Linked DNA regions of Homo sapiens: region 1 is linked to region 2. Evidence: fine-mapped expression QTL. Tissue or cell type: whole blood. Region 2 holds a variant in brackets; the other region holds the start of a gene. All regions are shown on one strand. Distances are from middle to middle.

Region 1 (5,817 bases), 95 kb before region 2:
TCCTATCAGCCCTGGCATAAAGAAATGTATTTCCCCAGAAGCAAAGATCCCAGAGGAAACTACCTCCTACGTTACAAAACCAGGGTCTGGGTTTGGGTCCAAATCATTATTTGATATCTTTATACAAAAAAACAAAACCTTCTCTTAAGACAAAAGTTGGGCCATGCAACAACTATGGGCTCTCAAAGTAAATTTTAGTTTAAAAAAATTACCTATTGTTTGCATGGATTTTACCGATGACTTTATGGCTGCGCATCTGCCATAAAGTGTTCAAAACGCTCATTCTCTCTTTGAAAGGACCTGACCAAACCAGGACTTTGGAGTTCTCACCCGACTGAGCCACTGAACAGAAAAATCCAGGGGAAAATCCCTGACGGGGATTAGAATGAACTTTTTAGTTTCCTTCCAGAGCTGGAAATATTCGAGTTTGGAAAGTCCCGGAGCAGAGCCGCATTTGCAACACGGCCATCCTGCTTTAGGGATGAATTGAAACTGGAAAGAGAGTAGTACCAATGAGAGTGAGAAAGGGAAGACGAGGATGCAGCCTGGTCCAGAACCTCTGGAGCCCGGGGGGAAACAGGTTGGCATCACATCCGCGCCACCAAGTCGCAGGCCCGCGGCAGAGCGTTGCGCTCACCCTTGAAGGTGGCACTACAGAGCCACCCAGGAAACACGGACTTTTCATTGAAGACAAAATGAATCAAGGAGCCTGCGTGTGGGCAGCTTCCAAAGCCTCCAGTGAGTGTGGGAGTAGGGATCAGAGCCTCACGGCGCTCTGGGTTGCTGAGTGTGGGGGTGATGGTGAAACAAAATGCAGAAAAGGTAAAAATTGAAGAAGCAGAGTTAAAAGTAGCTAGCGGTCTGGCCTAAGAGACAGGAAGTGGCCCAGACTGAGACTGAAGAGGGCTGGACCAGGGGGAAGTGAAGAGAGCAGGACTGGGAGCAGCTACAAGATAGGATTGAGGAATTTCAGGCTGAAGGAAAGAAAGGGTGGAGGCCTCGCCAGACAGCAGCGAGGGGGCGGGGCTAGGCAGGAATGAGGGCGGGGCTTGAAAGTGAGGGGCGGGGCTAGGGGAAGAAGGGAGGAGGACGGTGTGGGGGGGTGAGGGAGAAACGAAAGAGGATGGGGGAGTGAGAAGAGGGTGGGTGGGGGCAGGAGGGGAGAAGCAAGGGGGCAAGTGGAAGGGGAGGTAGCAAAATAGCTTGGAAGTGGTGGGAAAGACCAGGAGGATGAGGGGAGGGAGCAGGTGGGAGGGAAAACAGGAAAGCAAGAGAGATGATGGGAAAGTGGTGAGAAGTGAGGGATGGGACCAGGGGAACAGAGGCAAGGCCAGGAGGGAAAAGCGAGGGGGCAGGTGGGCGGAGAGGATGGGAAGCGAGGAGAAGGAGGGAGGGGGTAAAAACGGCGGAGGAGAAAAAAAGGAGAGAAGCAAGGGGGCGGGACCAGGAAGAAGTGAGGGCCGATGCTAGGAAAGAAGTGAGGAGGCGGGACCAGGAAGAAGTGAGGGCCCAGGCTAGGAAAGAAGTGAGGAGGCGGGACCAGAGAGAAGCGAGGGAGCTGGACGCAGGGAGAAGCGAGGGGGCGGGGACAGAAAGTTAGGAGGCGGGAGCAGAGAGGAGCGAGGGGGTGGGGCCAGAGAGATGGGCGGGGTCAGGTTTGGGGAGGAAAGGTGGGGAAGAGAAAGGACCACAGGGATGGAGGTGAAAGGCAAGGGGGCGGGGCCTGGGGGGAGAAGCGAGGGGTCAGGTGCTAGGGAGAGGAAGGGAAGCGAGAGGCAAGGGGCCGAGCCGGGGAGAGGTGAGGGGAAAGGGCCTGGAAGGAGATGCAAGGGGCGGGGCCAGGAAAAGAGAAGCGAGGGGCGGGGCCAGGGAAGGAGATGCAAGGGGCGTGGCCATGAATGGAAATGAGAGGGGCGGGGCCAGGACGGAGATGCGAGGGGGCAGGTGCGGGGGAACGGGAGGGAACGCGAGACCGAGGGGGCGCGAGCGGCCAGGGGGCGGGGCCGGGCAACGGCGAGGGGGCGGGGCCAGGAGGGAGAAGCGAGGGGCGCACGCCGAAGGGGGTGACGAGGTCCTGGGACAACGGCCGGCGTGGGGGAGGGCCGCTTCCAAGGGCGCCCTGCGGGGAATTCCGGGGCGGGCGAGGGGGCGCCGGGGCGCGGGTGGGCCTCCCGCCGGCCGTACCTGTCAGACGGATCTTGATGCTGGAGCCGTTCCTGCGTGTCCCGGGGTTCGACATCTCCCGCCAACGATCGGGCAGCCGCGGATCCAGCGCCACCGCCCCCCAGCCCGGCCCGGCCCGGCCCCGCCGCCGCCGCCTCAAGGTTACGGCTCCGGGCTGGGCGCCGGGGTCCGAGCCGGGACACAAACTCCGCGGCCCAGGCGTCCGGGCGGCAGGCGGATGGTCGAGCCGGGAGATCGGCGCTTGCTGCGGCGCTCTGACCCTCGCTGCTTCCAGCCGAGCCCAGTCCCGAGCCGCCGCCGCCTCCGCCGCCGCCTCCGCCGCCTCCACCACCTCAGAGCCGGACGCCCGCCGCCCTCGCCGCTTCCGCCGCTGCCGCCGCCTCTCCGAGCCGCGCGCGCGCCCGCCGCCGTGCCGGCCCGGCCCTGCGCGCCCCCGCGCCTGCGTGCGTGCGCGCCCCCGCCACGTACGCTGGGGCGGGGCGGGGTGCGCTGCTACGTCGCCCGCACGCCTGCCTCGGGCGCGCGGGGCCCGGATCCCGCGGGTTGGGGTCTTCACCCTTCCTGTGGTCGGTGGGTGGGAGGGTCTGGCCCCGAGCCCGGGAAGGGAGAGCAGAGCTGGCCCCGGGACCCAGCGCGCGGTCGCCCTCTGTCTTGACCCCTGTCTCTGCGAGGCTCTGGGCTCCTGAGTGACTGAAGAGTGGTTTGCATGAAACCGTGGGCTGTGTCCACACCAAGCTCCTTGCACACAGGCGTGCAATACCAGTTTTTTTCAGTTAAGAGCTTTCGATCGTGCAAGTTCAAGGGAGGGACTTCTCAAAGAGACAAAGCCCTTAGGTGTGTTCTGTGCAACGGGTGTGCTCCACTGACCCATAACAAAGTTGCCAGAATCGCAGAAGTGCCATATACGGACAAGGAAAACGAGATGAGAGGGAGGGATAAAGTTGAGAGGCGGATGTTTGTTATTATCCATTCTGCATACAATTTTACCAAACAAGAAAGTGGCATTGTGGTTTGTGTTCCCATGTCTTCTGCTAAATTTCCCCTTCTCCCGGGGTTGCAGGTTAGAACCAAAAGCTCATGGCTGGGTACGGTGGCTGTAGCCTGTAATCCCAGCACTTTGGGAGGCCGAGGCGGGCGGATCACTTGAGCCCAGGACTTTGAGGCCAGCCTGGGCAACATAGGGAGACTCCATCTCTACAAAAAATACAAAAATTAGCTGGGCATGGTGGTGCGCGCCTGTAGTCCCAGGTACTGGGAGGCTGAGGTGGGAGGATCACTTGAGCCCCAGAGTTCATGGCTGCAGTGAGCTATGATCAGGCCACTGCACTACAGCCTGGGTGACAGAGCTAGACACTGTCTCAAAACACACACACACACACACACACACACACACAGAAAAAGCTCATTATGCGCTTTCTCCAGCAAACAAACTCCTCTCTGTTAGCATGTTATAGAAATAAACTGGTATTATTAGAAAGAGGGAAAACTAGGTTTATCAAACTTGTTTTTTACCCACTACCTTGTTGTTGTTGTTGTTGTTTTTTGAGACAGGGTCTCACTCTGTCACCCAGGCTGGAGTGCAGTGGCACGGTCTTGGCTCACTGCAACCTCCACCTCCCAGGTTCAAGTGATTCTCGTGTCTCAGCCTCCTGTATAGCTGGGATTACAGGCGTTAGCCACCACACCCAGCTAATTTTTGTATTTTTGGTAGAGATGGGGTTTCGCTGTTTTGGCCAGGCTGGTCTCAAACTTCTGAGCTCAGGTGATCTGCCCGCTTCAGCCTCCCAAAGTGCTGGGATTTCAGGCCTAAGCCACCGCTCCCAGACCCCACTACCCATTTTCATGTACAAGTTCTTTTTTATTTTTATTTGATTCTTCATCAATCAACTTGAACAAATTCTTTTAATACTGTGTGTGTGTGTGTGTGTGTGTGTGTCCCAAGGAAAGTAGGCTCTGGGCCATTGCTACCATCCCCTGCAGCCTTGTGCCTGTCCTAAGGTCACAGTCTTCGGAACAGAGCCTTCTACCTAGAGCGCCTAGACATACCTGCCTGCCTGCCCGCCTGCCTGCCTGCCTGCCTGCCTCGGATGACCCTAGTGAAAGCAGAGTCTCTCCTGGGCAGGATTCAAGGCATCACATCTGTCAAATAAAAGGATGGTCCTAGGTCATTTCTATGGCACCTTGCGGCTCTTTCAGTTATCCTCAAGAAAGACCCAAGAATATAAGCAATGTTTAAGCAATAGCAGTAGAGCCACAATCCAGCTGTTTCCATTTGTAGATGATTGTCACAGAGAGTGAATGCCTGGGTCTGAATTAATCCATCCAGTCTCTAATGCTCCCAAGTAATCCCCATTCTTCTGCCAATCCCGTTAGTATTTCCCCCCTATTCAAAGAGTCTCCTCTCTAAACAAAACCAGACATCACTCTCTGCTTACCTGGGTGCAGGCTCCTGTTCTTATCCCCAGGTGTTCCTGACCTGGAAACCTTTCATTGCTTAATTTTGTTGTTTTTCTCCCCGCCCCGACGGCTGGTTCTTCGTTGGCTTGACTGTTTCCTTAATCTTTGAGTCAGGAGGTTGCTTCTGGAGGTTTCTGAAAGGCATTTTGTTCATTCATTAACAAGTACAGATGCTCCTTGATGTACAATGGGGTTACATTCTGATAAACCCATAATATGTTGAAAATATGTCAAAAATGCATTTGCGGAGGCCGGGCATGGTGGTTCATGCCTGTAATCCCAGCACTTTAGGAGGCTGAGGTGGGGGGATTACCTGCGAGCAGGAGTTCGAGACCAGCCTGGCTAACATGGTGAAACCCTGTCAACTAAAAATACAAAAGTTAACTGGGTGTGGTGGTGTGCACCTGTAGTCCCAGCTACTCGGGAGGCTGAGGCACAAAAATCACTTAAACTCGGGAGGCAGAGGTTGCAGTGAGGCGAGATTGTGCCACTGCACTTCAGCCTGGGCAATAGAGCGAGACTGTGTCTTAAAAAAAAAAAAAAAAAAAAAAAAAAAAAAAAAAAAACAACGGAAAATGCATTTACTACACCTAAGCTACCAGCCATTATAGCTTAGCCCAGCCTACCTTAAATGTGCACAGAACACTTTCATTACCATACGGTGGGGCAAAATCATCTAACACAAAGCCTATTTTACGATAAAGTTATTATAAAGAATTTTGAATCAAAATTCGAAATTTGAAGTGTGGTTTCTACTGAATGTGTGTCGCTTTCCTACCATAACATCAAAAAATCGTAAGTCAAACCGTCATAAACTGGGACCATTTGAAATTGCTAGATATACCCAATAGTATCTTTCACCACAGCTGCACAAAGGGGACCTTCCTACCTGGAAGCTCATGTTTTACTCATTCGGCAAACATTGGCCACCTGCTATGTGGCTAGGAACAAGGAATACAAAATAAATCTATTACAGCTTCAGCATTCCAGAGGGTCAGTTAACTGGATGAAACAGACATGAGCAACTGACAATGATACAGTGATGGGGATGTGTATAGCAGGCTAGAACATAGATGACAGAACAATTCTACATAAGAAGAGAAATGGAGACATCTCGAGTCACAGATGATCTTAATCTAGAGCTTAAAGCCAACGTTCAAGTTTGCTGGGCAAAGT
Region 2 (7,604 bases):
CATGAGGGCACAAGACCCCTGCCCACCTCCTCTCCTTTCTTGTTTCTGTGCAACAGCCGAGCTTTCCGGGCTAGGATGGCGGGGGCGGGTGACGCAGAAAAAAAGTTCCAGCCAGAACTCTCTACGCCAGGCCCCATAGGAAGACAAGAGGAGGAGAAAGCGCCTGGCTATGCCTCAGTGGCTTGCCTGTTGTGACTCAGCTTCTTTTGGAAAAACTGGGGGTGTTGGCAGGAGAGACTGTAGGCGCAGTACAGCGAGGGCCCAGCGCACAATTAGGAGTCCCTCATCTAAAGGCTGAGGCTGTACCCTTGGCCTTGAGAAATGCATTGCTGGCAAAGAGGCTCAGAACCACACCCTCCCTGAAACTTCGAGAAGGTTCTTCAACCCCAAGACGAACTGGGGAGGCCCCTGATTTCTGTCTTTGTTCCCTTGAGCCTCCAGTTCCCCTCCTTCCTGGGGATTCAGTGAAACTGTTTGGGGTTTGGGAATTGAGAGACCCAGACTGTCCTCGTTTTAGGAGAGATAATAATTGACCCAGGCAGTCATTTTGTACTAGGGACCGCTGGATGTCTGGTGAAGCCTGTGGACTCCGCTCAGATTAGTGTTTTTAAATGAATAAAATAGGCCGGGCATGGTGACTCATGCCTGTAATCCTAGCACTTTGGGAAGCTGAGGCAGGTGGATCACTTGAGGTCAGGAGTTCAAAACCAGCCTGGCCAACATGGTAAAACCCTGTCTCTACTAAAAATACAAAAAAAAAAAAAAAAAAAAAAAATTTGCCAGGCGTGGTAGCGGGCACCTCCCAGCTACTCAGGAGGCTAAGGCAGGAGAATTGCTTGAACCCAGGAGACAGAGGTTGTAGTGAGCCAAGATTGCAGCACTGCACTCCAGCCTGGGCAACAGAAGAAAACTCCGTCTCAAAAAAAAAAAAAAAAAAAAAAAAGGTAAAATAAAATACACAGAGCTGCAAAGGAAACGAATGGTATTGTAATACTGGCTGGGTGCGTGCGCTGGCTCAAAAACCAGTAATCCCAGCACTTTGGGAGGCCAAGGTGGGAGAATCACTTGAGGCCAAGAGTTTGAGATCAGCCTTGGCAACATGGTGAGACCTCATCTCTATAAAACATTTTAAAATTAGTCGAGCATAGTGGCTTATGCCTGTAATCCCAGCATTTTGGGAGGCTGAGGTGGGAAGATTGCTTGAGCCCAGAAGTTGGAGGCTGCAGTGAGCTATGATTGCACCACTGCACTCCAGCATGGGTGATGGAGTAAGACCCTGCCTCTGAAAAAAAAAAAAAAGAAAAGAAAAAATATATTAAAAACTAATTTGTGACATGGCAGTAAGGCAATAATAAATGTCCTTCTTTATTAAAAAATTTAAAGAACAGTATCAAACCAAGGGCTTAAAGAGACCATAATTTTAAAGTTGAGATGAAGATAAACAGTATTTTGAGACATCTGCAGCCACCCTAACGAGAAGTGAAGAGCTTTGATTTTTGCTGGGAGCAAATAGAGGCTGTGGTGCTACGGAGGTCTGTGGCCTCTGTTCATATCAGATAGAAAGTGAAAACCAAGTGGCAATTGTTTTCCTGTCCCATTTCACAGACCCTGGGTAGAAACCCTACCTTTAACCTCTCCATGCCCCAGTGTTCTCCTCCATAAAATAGGCTTCCTGATCCCTACCTCACAGCCTTAGTATGAGGAACATATGAGATGAAAGAGGCAGAAGCATTTGTGTTGTTGGGGGTGAGGGGGTACTTAACTGTGAAGATTTATTAGCTTATTTCATTTTTAAATATAACTTCAACTTTTAGATTCAAGGGGTATACATGCAGGTTTGTTATATGGGTATATTGAGTGACACTGGGATTTGGGATCCAAATGATCCCATCACACAGGTGGTGAGCATAGCATCCAATAGGCCATTCTTCAATCCTTGCCTCCCTCCTGCTCTCCCCCATCTAGTAGTCCCCAGGGTCTATTGTTTCTATCTGTCTGTACCCAATATTTAGCTCCCACTTATAAGTGAAAACATGTGGTATTTGGTTTTCTGTTTCTATGTTAATTCACTTAGAATAATGGCCTCCAGCTGCATCTATGTTGCTGCAAAGGACATGATTTCATTCTTTTTTATGGCTGCATAGTATTCCATGGTGTATATGTACCACATTTTCTTTCTGTTTTTGGCTTTTTTTTTTTAAGACAGGGTCTTGCTCTGTCACCTAAGCTGGAGTGCAGTAGTACAATCATGGCTTCCTGCAGCCTTGACCTCCCCAGCTCAAGCAATCCTCCCGCCTTAGCCCTGAGGATAGCTAGGACTACAGGCACACATCACCATGCCCAGCTAATTTTTTAATGTTTTTGTAGACATGGGGCCTTGATATATTGCCCAGGCTGGTCTCAAACTCCTGGGCTCAAGCTGTCCTTCCACCTTGGCTTCCCATAGTGCTGGGATTATAGGTGTGAGCCACTGTACCTGGCCTGTACCACATTTTCTTTATCTAATCCACCACTGATGGCCACCTAGGTTGATTCCATGTTTTTGCATTGTGAATAACACTGCAGTGAACATACAGGTGCATGTGTCTTTTTGGTAGGAAAACTTATTTTTCCCTTTTTTTAGATACCCAGGAATAGGATGGCTGGGTTGAATAACAGTTCTAAGTTCTTTGAGAAATCTCCAAATTGCTTTCTACAGTGGCTGAACAATTAGCTTCTTTCTTATTCTTGGTTATGAAAGCCTAATAGCACCAAGACAGACAAGGTGACATGAGAGAAGCAAGCCTCTGTCTTTCTCGGGACATTGACTTCAGCCTGTGAGCCTCAGCAGCTTGTCTCTGCTTCCCCCTACAGCACCCAGGGAAGTCCTGGTTCCTGCCCTCAGCTCCTTCCTGCTCCATCCTCAACCAAGCCACCATGCCTGGTGGGTACAAAGGGGAGTGTGGGGACGATGTGGACCCTATGCCTTTCCTGGCACCTCCTGAAAAGGAGAGGATTGAAGCCATGAACAAGCCCTATGACATTAAGAGGTCCTGCTGGGTCAAAGATGAGAAGGAAGGCTTCGTCGCTGGGGAGATCCAGTCTGAACAGGGTGACCAAGTCACCGTGAAGACGATCACCAACCAGGTGAGTGGGGCACGATCTCCAGGATGAAACCAAGTGGCAGGCACCCAGGCCTTTTCTAGGCATGCTCCCGCCCAGAAGGCAGGGTGGCAGAAAGAGCAGGTGCCTCCGAGTCCCATGTGCTGGGGTCAAATCCAGACTCGCCTACACTCAAGCTGTGTGGCCCTGGGCAAGACGCATTCCCTCTCTGAGCTATATCACAATAGAGATTCCGAGACAGATCACATGAAAGCACTTCATAGACTCTAAGACAGTACCGTGCGTAAGGGATGATCGTGAGAGTTACTTATCTTTGATGTCTCAAACAGCTCTCAAGTGGAAGCTATTTTCTAAGCATGAGAGTGAGCATGTCACTTATGAGCAGTGTCACTGTGTGCCATGGCCCCTGGTGGCATGAGGGCCATGAGAGAGGGCACAGAACACCCTGGCTCACTGGGTGAGCTCTTCAGCTGCATGAAGAACAGATGGTGGTTCCCAGGTCTCTTGGAGCATGGGGGTGGTGTGCTGGATGTGATGGCTTCCGATGGCTTTTAACGTGTTGCAAGGACCCAACCTGGCTAATGATGGCTTGCAGGGACTCAACCTGGCTTATCGTGGATTGCAGGGATCCAACCTGGCTTGTGATGGTTTGCAAAGACCCCAACACTAAACAATGAGGGATTTTACAGCCAGTTGTTAAACCTTGGGTAGCTTGCTATCAGCCGTGATGGAAGTATTTATACCATGGAAATGGGAATATGCTGTAAATCAGGGACACTTCCCCCCAGACAGCTGGTTTACCAACCCACCCTTCTCTCTGCTGGCCCACACTACGTCTGACTATGAGATATGACTTGAGAGAATGGATAGAAAATTTGGCTTATTAGGCTAGGCGTGGTGGCTCACACCTGTAATCCCAGCACTTTGGGAGACCAAGACAGGAGGATTACTTGGGCTCAGGAGTTTGAGACTGTCCTGGGCAACTTGGTGAGACCCTATCTTTATTTTTAGAAAATAATAACAATTTTTATTAGAATTTTTTTAATTTGGTTTATTTTAAATGGGTAAGGGCAGGGTCTCTTGTATTCTTGGCAGACCCCTGGTGAGGCACTTGACACTTTGTTTAATCCTTTTGGCAATCTTATGTGGTAGGATTTATTGACCCTATTTTGCAGAGAAGGAAAACTGAGGATCAAGGGCACTTTAGGTGACCTGTGTACGTTGCAAAAATAGCAAATGATGAATTTGGATTCAAACCCACTGTATCTGGCTCATATGCCCATGCCCCTTCTATGTCACCATTCCATCCCTTCATGGTGGGCTGCCAAGAGGGAGGCATGAGCCATTGCACCCGGCCACTTTTCCATTTAAGAAAAAAGACATTACTCTGCTCCCTCCAAACCGCCTTCAAGGATAAAATTGAGAGCAAGCAAGCAAAGAAAACAAAACAAAACAAAACAAAAACAAAAAACAGAGCAATGTGTGTTCAGCAATAAATATATTAGCACCTGCGAGGTCCATTCCTGGTTAATTTCTTGATTAAAAGAAGTCAGAGGCCAGACGCGGCAGC[T/A]CAAGCCTGTAATCCCAGCACTTTGGGAGGCCGATACAGGCAGATCGCTTGAGGCTAGGTGTTTGAGACCAGCCTGGGCAACATAACGAGGCCCCGTTTCTACAAAAAATTAGCCAGGTGTGGTGCATCCCTGTACTCCCAGTTACTTAGGAGGCTGAGCCAGGAGAATCGCTTGAGCCCAGGAAGCTGAGGCTGCAGTGAGCTAGGATTGCACTGCTGCACTCCAGCCTGGGTGACAGACAGAAACCTTGTCTCAAAAAAAAAAAAAGGAAGCCAGAGACCTCAGTGATCAGAACTGGCAACAGCTGTATTTTTCTCTGCGCCTGTCTTCGAGAGGAGCAGTGGTAAAAAGATATAGTTGGGTGGAAATGGATTTGAACGAAAGTCAAGCTTAATTCCCAGGAGAAACAGTTTTCAGAGAGGAGAGTGCTGCAGTGTCGTGAGAAGTGATGGGTGATGATAGTGGAGCCCCAGGGTGCATCTAAGTTTGGATCCACATTTAAGGACAACACAATTTCCTTGAGTATCTGCAGCAGACAGTGCCGGCCAGCCGGGTTTGGGACAGAAAAGATGGAGCCTGTGGCGCTGGCTTCCCTGGCTCCTAAAATAAAGGCCAAGTTCTCCATTCCTCTGCTGAAAGCGAAGTGTCTGCACGTGGACGAGGACCAGAGATCTGGAAACCCCTGGAAATGAATTCAGAATAAAACCCAGCTTGAGGCCAGGCATGGTGGGTCACGCCTGTAATCCCACCACTTTGGGAGGCCAAGGAGGGTGGATCACCTGAGGTCAGGAGTTTGAGACCAGCCTGGCCAACATGGTGAAACCCCATCTCTACCAAAAATATAAAACTTAGTCGGGCATGGTGGCCTGCGCCTGTAATCCCAGTTACTTGGGAGGCTGAGGCAGGAGAATTGCCTGAACCCAGGAGGCGGAGGTTGCAGTGAGTTGAGATCACGCCACTGCACTCCAGCATGAGTGACAGAGTGAGACTCTGTCTCAGAAAAAACAACAAAACAAAAACAAACAAACAAAAAACAGCTTGGTTTACTAAGGGCGTGGTAACCATTACGGGGAGTGGGGGTGGATTTTCCAGAACTGTCAAGATTTCAAATTATCTGCCTATTGTACTAATAAGTTATTAAAAGTCCCAGAAATCCCAGTATGGATTCAGGCCTCACATCTAAGGTTGCAGGCAGCCAAAAGGTATTTGTTTTCTAGATCGTATGTCTTCAGCTTTGATCCCAGATGCTGGAGCTTCTTAAGAGCTGGCACTAGTTTTTTTTTTTTGTTTAGTTTTGTTTTGTCTTGCACTATCACCCAGGCTGGAGTGCAGCGGCATGATCTCCGCTCACTGCAACCCCCGCCCCCTGGGTTCAAGTGATTCTCCTGCCTCAGCCTCCCAAGTAGCTGGGGTTACAAGTGTGCGCTACCACGCCCAGCTAATTTTTGTATTTTTAGTAGAGACAGGGTTTCGCCATTTTGGCCAGGCTGGTCTCGAACTCCTGACCTCAGGTGATCCACCCACCTCGGCCTCCCAAAGTTCTGGGATTACAGGCATGAGCCACTGCACCCGGCCTAGTTTTCATTTATAGATGAAGAAATTGGGGTGCAGCATGGGGAAGAGATCTGCCCACATGGCACGGGCGCGAACACACCTACTGATGAATGCTCATTGCTGGTTTCTTTTTTTTCTTCTTTTCTTGCTTGCTTTCAATTTTATCCTTGAAGGTGGCTTGGAGGGAGCAGGGGAATGTCTTTTTTTCAAGTGGAACAGTGGCTACATGTGGTGGCTCACACCTGTAACACTTTTGGGGGCCAAGATGGGAGGATCATTGAAGGCCAAGAGTTCAAGACCAGCATAGGCAACATAGCAAGACCTTGTCTCTAGAAAAAAAAATTAAAAATTAGCCAGGCATGGTGGTGTGCACCTGTAGTCCCAGCTACTCGGGAGGCTGAGGCAGGAGGATGGCTTGAGCCCAAGAGATTGAAGCTGCAGTGAGCTATGACTGTACCACTGAACTCCAGCCTGGGCAACAGAGCAAGATTATGTCTCAAAAAATAAAATTAAATTAAAAATTTAAAAAGGAAAAGTTTGGCTGGTCTGAAGGTAGTGAGTTATCTCAATTGATTGTGCATGGTCAGTTACAGATCAAAATCCTTGTTCCACTCTTCCCCCCACCCTTCTCATTACTGCACTTAGTCTTTAAAAAAGAGAGAGAGAAATGGAAAAGCTCATCGCTATTTCGAAATCACCGCTAACTCTCAAGGCAGAGAGCCAAGAGTCACATCTCTGCAAAGTGTCCATGGGATCAAAGAATAAGCTCTGATCATCTATCAGGATGGATTTGGCTGGAAGAGAAGCAGAGCCCAGAGGTCTCTGTAACATAGGGAGGGAACGTCATAGTTTTTAAGGTATTTTTACATGATTCCACTTAAGTTCATATAATTCTCCCAGCAACCTGCCAAGGAGGCTACTGTCATCTCAACTTCAGAGAGGAGGCAGTTGAAGCTGCATTGGCCTCAGAAGTGCCTCCCCATCCCAGGACACACAGGGGGATGTGGCTGGACCAGGACTTGGGTCCACTGGATGCTCCACTCCATCTCCTGGGACTCCAGAGGGTATGTGGTGACCTGGGCCAGATGCCCCATGCCCCATGCCTGATGCCTGTGCTGCTGTGTCTTGACCCCCCCAGACACTCACTGTGAAGAAGGATGATATCCAGCAGATGAACCCACCCAAATTCTACCAGGCCAGTGACATGGCAGACATGACCTTCCTGAATGAGGCCAGTGTCCTAGACAATCTGCGCCAACGCTACACCAACATGAGGATCTATGTGAGTGCCAGGGATGGGGTGAGTGGGGGGAGGAAGGAGTGGCTGTAGATCTTCTGCTTTTCTTTTGTTGAGGAGGGGGTTGGCTACTCCACCCT

What was found. PIP is the estimated chance that this variant, and not a neighbour inherited with it, causes the effect.
Region 1: it holds the start of SMURF1, and the variant in region 2 is fine-mapped to the expression of SMURF1 in whole blood (INTERVAL, PIP above 0.99).

Annotation. Positions count from the first base shown.
Region 1 is chr7:99,141,542-99,147,358 of GRCh38, forward strand. SMURF1 (SMAD specific E3 ubiquitin protein ligase 1) reads right to left here and starts at 2,567. Exons shown (of 18, transcript NM_181349.3): 1 at 2,185-2,567. The coding sequence starts at 2,239. It also overlaps a transcript of KPNA7 not described here. RefSeq lists silencers at 1,749-1,798, 1,859-2,188, 2,329-2,828.
Region 2 is chr7:99,235,913-99,243,516 of GRCh38, forward strand. It overlaps a transcript of MYH16 not described here. Among named protein-coding and RNA genes, the nearest start is that of KPNA7, 32 kb to the left of the region's middle. The variant T/A (reference allele first, on the strand shown) is at 4,673.